2 linked regions of the Homo sapiens genome follow. The protein of the gene in region 2 binds, or shares a complex with, the protein of the main gene of each other region. Each region holds a gene or a part of one and is shown on either strand. Other genes may lie near its edges.

What was found. Proteins that work in one complex are often made in the same cells at the same time.
Region 1: MKS1 (region 2) and B9D1 share a complex: the UniProt entries of both Homo sapiens proteins name them as parts of the tectonic-like complex.

What each region holds. Positions count from the first base shown.
Region 1 is NC_000017.11:19,349,072-19,352,725, forward strand, and holds part of B9D1 (B9 domain-containing protein 1), read right to left. Parts: intron 1-3,654. UniProt on the Homo sapiens protein: Component of the tectonic-like complex, a complex localized at the transition zone of primary cilia and acting as a barrier that prevents diffusion of transmembrane proteins between the cilia and plasma membranes.
Region 2 is NC_000017.11:58,204,787-58,207,098, forward strand, and holds the end of MKS1 (tectonic-like complex member MKS1), read right to left. Parts: coding exon 2,299-2,312; intron 1,762-2,298; coding exon 1,679-1,761; intron 1,595-1,678; coding exon 1,497-1,594; intron 1,385-1,496; coding exon 1,293-1,384; coding exon of another isoform or gene 1,204-1,292; 3' UTR 655-1,203; downstream 1-654. UniProt on the Homo sapiens protein: Component of the tectonic-like complex, a complex localized at the transition zone of primary cilia and acting as a barrier that prevents diffusion of transmembrane proteins between the cilia and plasma membranes.

The DNA.
Region 1 (3,654 bases), about 39 Mb from region 2:
AGGTAACACCAAGCTGCCAGCATGGTCCTATCAGCCAGCACTCCCCCAGCAGTGGTATCTGATTCCTGCTCCTCTGTACCTCACGAAAACATGGCATTACCAATCTTTTAAATTTGAGCCGTCCTAGTGAGAGAATAGTGGTAGCTCACTGTAGCTTTAACTTATATTTTCCTTCATTTTAGATTTTTCTTACTGAAATAAGGTTGAGACCTTTACCTGTTTCTTGGTCACCTGGATGTCCTCTTTTGTGAAGAACCTACTCAAGTCTCTTGCCCGGTTTTCTACTTGATGGTCTTTTTCTTTTTTCTTCATTAAAAACATTTTTTTTTTTTGAGACAGGGTCTTGCTCTGTTGCCCAGGCTGGAGTGCAGTGGTGCAATCATGGCTCACTGCAACCTCAACCTCCTGGGCTGAAGTGATCCTCCCACCTCAGCCTCCCAAGTAGCTGGGACTATAGGCGTGTGCTGCCATGCCTAATTTTTAAATTTTTTGTAGAGATGGGGTCTCACTATGTTGCCCAGGCTAGTCTCAAACTCTTGGGCTCAAGCAATCTTCCTGCCTCAGCCTCCCGAAGTGCAGGGATTACAGGTGTGAGTCACCTTGCCTGGCCTGGCCTTTTTCTTATTGATTTATAGTGTGTATATGTGTGTTTATCCTGTGACTTATCTTTTCATTTTTAGTGATGTCTTTGAATGAACATAAGCCCTTAATTTTAATATAGTCAACTTCATTGATCTTCTCCTTCATGGAGTCCTGCCAGAAAATCTTCCCTTACCCTGATATCATGGCTATAGTCCTCTATGCTACATATCCATCTGAAATTGACTTGTGTGTATGAGGACAGGCTGAAGTTTTTTCCTATGTATATCAAATTGTCCCAGCACCATTTATTAAAAAGACCAGGCTGGCGGGCGCCTGTAGTCCCAGCCACTCAGGAGGCTGAGGCAGGAGAATGGCGTGAACCCGGGAGGCGGAGCTTGCAGTGAGCTGAGATCACGCCACTGCACTCCAGCCTGGGCGACAGAGCGAAATTCTGTCTCAAAAAAAAAAAAGACCAGGCTGGGAGCAGTGGCTCATGCCTGTAATCCCAGCACTTTGGGAGGCTGAGGTGGCAGATCACTTGAGGCCAGGAGTTCAAGACCAGCCTGGGTAACGTGGCAAAACCCCTTCTCTATGAAAAATCCAAAAATTAGGCGAGGCGCGGTGGCTCACACCTGTAATCCCAGCACTTTGGGAGGCTGAGGCAGGTGGATCATCTGAGGATGGGAGTTCAAGAACAGCCTGGCCAACATGGTGAAACCCCATCTCTACTAAAAATACAAAAATTGGCTGGGTGTGGTCGCATGTGCCTGTAGTCCCAGCTACTCCGGAGGCTGAGGCAGAATTGCTTGAACCCAGGAGGCAGAGGTTGCAGTGAGCTGAGATCGTGCCACTGCACTCCAGCCTGGGAGACAGAGCAAGACTCCATCTCAAAAATAAAAACAAAAACAAAAACAAAAATTAGCCGGGCATGGTGGTGCATGCCTGTAATCCCAGCTACTTGGAAGGCTGAGGCACCAGAATCGCTTGAATCCAGGAGGCCGAGGTTGCAGAAAAAATCTTTCAACATTTCACCAGTAAAAGTGATGTTTGCTCTAAGCTTTTCATAGATAATCTTGATCAGGTTAGGGAAGCTTCCTTCTATTCCTAGTTTACTAAGCTTTTATCATGAATGGGAGTTGAATTTTACCATGTGTTTTCTTCATTTATGGGGATGATCATGATTTTTTTTTTCTTTTTTTTTTTGAGATGGAGTCTTGCTCTGTCACTCAGGCTGGAGTGCAGTGGTGCAATCTTGGCTCACTGGAACCTCTGCCTCCCAGTTTCAAGCGATTCTCCTGCCTCAGCTTTCCAAGTAGCTGGGATCACAGGCGTGCGCCACCAAACCCGGCTAATTTTTGTATTTTTAGTAGAGAAGGAGTTTCACCATGTTGGCCAGGCTGGTCTCAAATTCCTGACCTCAAATGATCTGCCTGCCTCGGCCTCCCAAAGTGCTGGGATTACAGGTGTGAGCCATGGTGCCTGGCCTGACTCTGACTTTTCTTCTTTTTAATGTGGTGAATTATTTAGAGACAGGGTCTTGCTACGTTGCCCAGGTTAGTCTCAAACTCCTGGCCTCAAGCAATCTTCCCACCTCGGCCTCCATATGAGCCACTGTGCCTGGCCAACTATAGATGTCATAAAACCTTTGTATTTTTGGAATAAACCCTACTTCTCATGATGTATTATATTATCCTTTTTTTATCTTGCTAGTTTCTGAATATTTCATTTAGGAGTTTTGAATTCAGTTTCTGAATATTTTGTTTGGGAGTTTTGCAACTCTGTTCATGAAGGAGTTTCTTCTTTTTAATGTCCTCAGCAGGCTTTAGAATCAAAACTATGCTGACCTAAAAAAGCTGGGGAATGTTTAATCTTTTCAATTCTAGGAGTTTGTGTAAATCTGTCGTTACTTCCTCTTCTTTTTTTTCTTACACTTCTGCCATGGAAGGTGTCATTCTTTAAATGCCTGGTGGAACTCAGTGATGAAGACACTCGGACTTGGAACTTTCTTTGTGAGAACATTTTTAATTATAGATTCAATTTAATAGACATAGGACTACTCAGATTCTTATTCCTTTTTTGCAGTTTTGGTAGTTATCTTTTTCTAGGAATCTGACCATTTCATCTACCTTGCCAAATGTATAGCAAATGGCTGTTCTTTATATCTTATCTTTTTACTGTCTGCAAGATCTGTAACATGTTCCTTTTTCATTCCTGCCATTTCTGTCTTCTGTTTCTTCTTATTATTTTTTAGAGATAGGGTCTAGCGCTGGCACCCAGGCTGGAGTGCAGTAGCATGATCATAGCTCACTACACCCCCAAACTCCTAGGCTCAAACAATCCTCCCACCTCAGCCTCCCGAGTAGCTGGGACTACAGGTTTGAGCCACTGTGCCTGGCCAATTTTTCTATTTTTTGTAGAGACAGGGTCTCACCATGTTGCCCAGGTTAGTCTTGAACTCCTGGGCTCAAGCGATCCTACCGCCTCAGCCTCCCAAAGTGTTGGGATTATAGGTGTGAGTGACCCCACTTAGCCTGTTTTTTCATCGTCTTAACTTGGGGTTTTCAGTTTTAAAAACCAACTTTTGCCTCTTTCATCTCTTCTGTTGTAAGTGTGCTTTCTGTTTAATGAATTAATTTCTGCTGTTTCTCATTCTATTCTGCTTTCTTTGGGTTTAACTTGCTATTCTTTTACTAATTTCTTTTTTTTTTTGAGATTGAGTTTCACTCTTTCGCCCAGACCGGAGTGAAGTGGCACAATCTCAGCTGACTGCAACCTCTGCCCCCCAGGATCAAGTGATTCTCCTGCCTCACTCAGCCTCCCCATTAGCTGGGATTATAGGCACCTGCCACGGGCCTGGCTAATTTTTTTTTTTTTTTTTTTTTTTTGAGACGGAGTTTCGCTCTTGTTGCCCAGGCTGGAGTGCAATGGCATGATCTTGGCTCACTGCAACCTCCACCTCCCGGGTTCAAGTGATTGTCCTGCCTCAGCCTCCCGAGTAGCTGGAATTACAGGTACGTGCCACCATGCCTGGCTAATTTTGTATTTTTAGTAGAGACAGGGTTTCTCCATGTT
Region 2 (2,312 bases):
TGAGGCTGCCTTGTCTCCCTGGAGCAAGTGCAGGCTGCTGACGCTTCTGCTGGCTACAGCTCAGAGCTGGGTTCCCCAGCCAGGAGTGAAGGCTGGGGGCTCCTATCAGCAATGGACCTTCCCGCCTTGGGAGCCTCTTAGGTATTAGGCTATGAATCAGCGCCACGTGCAAAGGCTTGGGAGCCAAGCCATGTGGTCTTGCACCCCAGGCAAGAAAAGTCAGCTGGAGGGTTTACAGCACTTTCTACTGTTTCCCAGCCCTCCCTCCCCTCCCTCACCATGACTAAGAGACCACTCGGTCCTAGCCTCCAGACACCCCACAATACTCCTCTGAGCCTGAGGCCAGGCAGCATGCTCTGCTTCTACCAATAAAGCACTGCTAAGGGCAGGGGCTGCTGTTTCTGTGTTGGGCTAGGGAAGACGTGGCCTCAGTTCCATGCTTTGCTCCAGATGTTTAAGAGAAGTGCTGTTAACACGCAAGCTGGCACAACCATCTAAGCCTCTCCTGGGGGCTGAATTAGGAGAGCCCAAAGAAACACTGTGGAGTAGGGAAAGGCAGAAAAGGGGAAGGGCAGACATGGTAGGGGCCCCGACATTAAGAACACCCTAGCCATACCAGCAACCTGAGCAGACAAACAGCCAACAGAACATCAGTCAAAATAAAAGGGGTTTATGTAACAAAAAACAAAAAAACAAACAAACAAAAAAACACAGTAAAAGATACCACCCAGCTAGCAGAAAGGACTCAGCACTGCCTTCAGCCTTCACTTACTCAGAAATAACTCATATCTCAACCTCAGCAAGCCCCAAGCAGTAGAATGAGGCTTCCCTGGAAAGAGGCTGAGACTCACAGGCTGGGGATTTAAGACCCTCTCACCGTCCACCTTCCTTCCTTCTTTGGTCTTGGAAGATGAAAGGCTCCATTTTTAAAGGGTGGAGAACAGCAGATCCCCTGCTACTGTGAGACAAGCCAGAAAAGTGAGTCAAGGCCAGACTCACTATGGGGTCACCCCAAACAGCTTCAGATCAAAAAGCCTGCCTTGCTGTGATGCCCATTGACAGTGGCTGCAAATATAAAGGGGGGGCCACAGGGTCTCTGGCTTTATTTCCACAGGGTAGGGAGAAGACCCTGCAGAAGGCTAGGCAGAGGGGCCAGCCGGGAATTTCCCAGCTTTTCTGGTTCTCAGCAGACCAACGTGGTCTCTAATCAGAAAGACGAAGAGGCAGGAGAGCACTGGCCTCAGATATCCCCCATCTTGTCCTCTTGCACTGTGGGCCAGGGCTGCTGTGAGCTAGGAGACCAGGGTTCCAGAGGGGCTCACTAGGTCCTGCGGGAGGCTTTCCCGGGCCTCCTGCATGCGGCGCCGGGCTCGACGGAAGGCCTCTGTAAGGAAAGGAGATATGCTATTTGGCTGCCATATGGTATTTCTCTCTGCACTGCAGAGAGAAACAGGCCCATGCTGACCTGGGGTGGCCAGCTGGGGGAGGGGACATACCTAGCACATTGTGAATGGAACTCTGCTGGCTGAACCCTTCCAGACGGTCCAACACACTCCGCATCCTTTTCTGAAGGGAGCTCGATTCCATGAAGGCCCTGCAGGGAGGCCAGCCACATGGTTACGGCTGTCTCCACCCCTCAGGGCTAAGGTGCCCTGAGGCAGAGGGCCAAGTCACTCACCTGGACTGCTGCAGACAGTGCAAGCGGAAGGTGACAGTGCCTGTGGTCTCTGTGCGGAGTCCAAAGCGGCTCAGGCGTTCCCCCTGTGGCATGCCATTGGGACAGCCTCAGGTTTCTGCTCTCTCTAGACACCCCCGCACCATGCTGGCCTCACCCCCATTCTTATTCCCATTCTTGGGAAGCGCAGTTCTGTTGGGGAAACCTTATTCCATCACCCAGACTCTATTACCTCAAGGCTAATACTGGGCTATTGGGCTCCCCCAACTAAACCAGGGAACATTCCAACCTCATTTGAGAAGCGGCGGTCTTATATGCTTACTGTGAATCCTCCCCACATCTGATTACTGAGGCCTTCAGTGATGGGGGAAAGAGCCAGTTATTCTGATGGGAACCAGGGGAAATCTCTAATTATACTATTTTCCAGAGACCTCCTACGATAGCAGTGTAGATATTGGAACCTGATTCAAAATGTGGTCATGACTTCCAGCTTAAGCCACAGGAAGGAAGGGGTTAATACTGAAGCAATGCACAACTAAGGGGTCTTGACCCAGATCCCACCTCCTACAGAAGGACAGGACCATAAGTTCTCAGCGTGAAGTCACTCCAAAGACAAAAGTCACCTTGAAGGATCCTG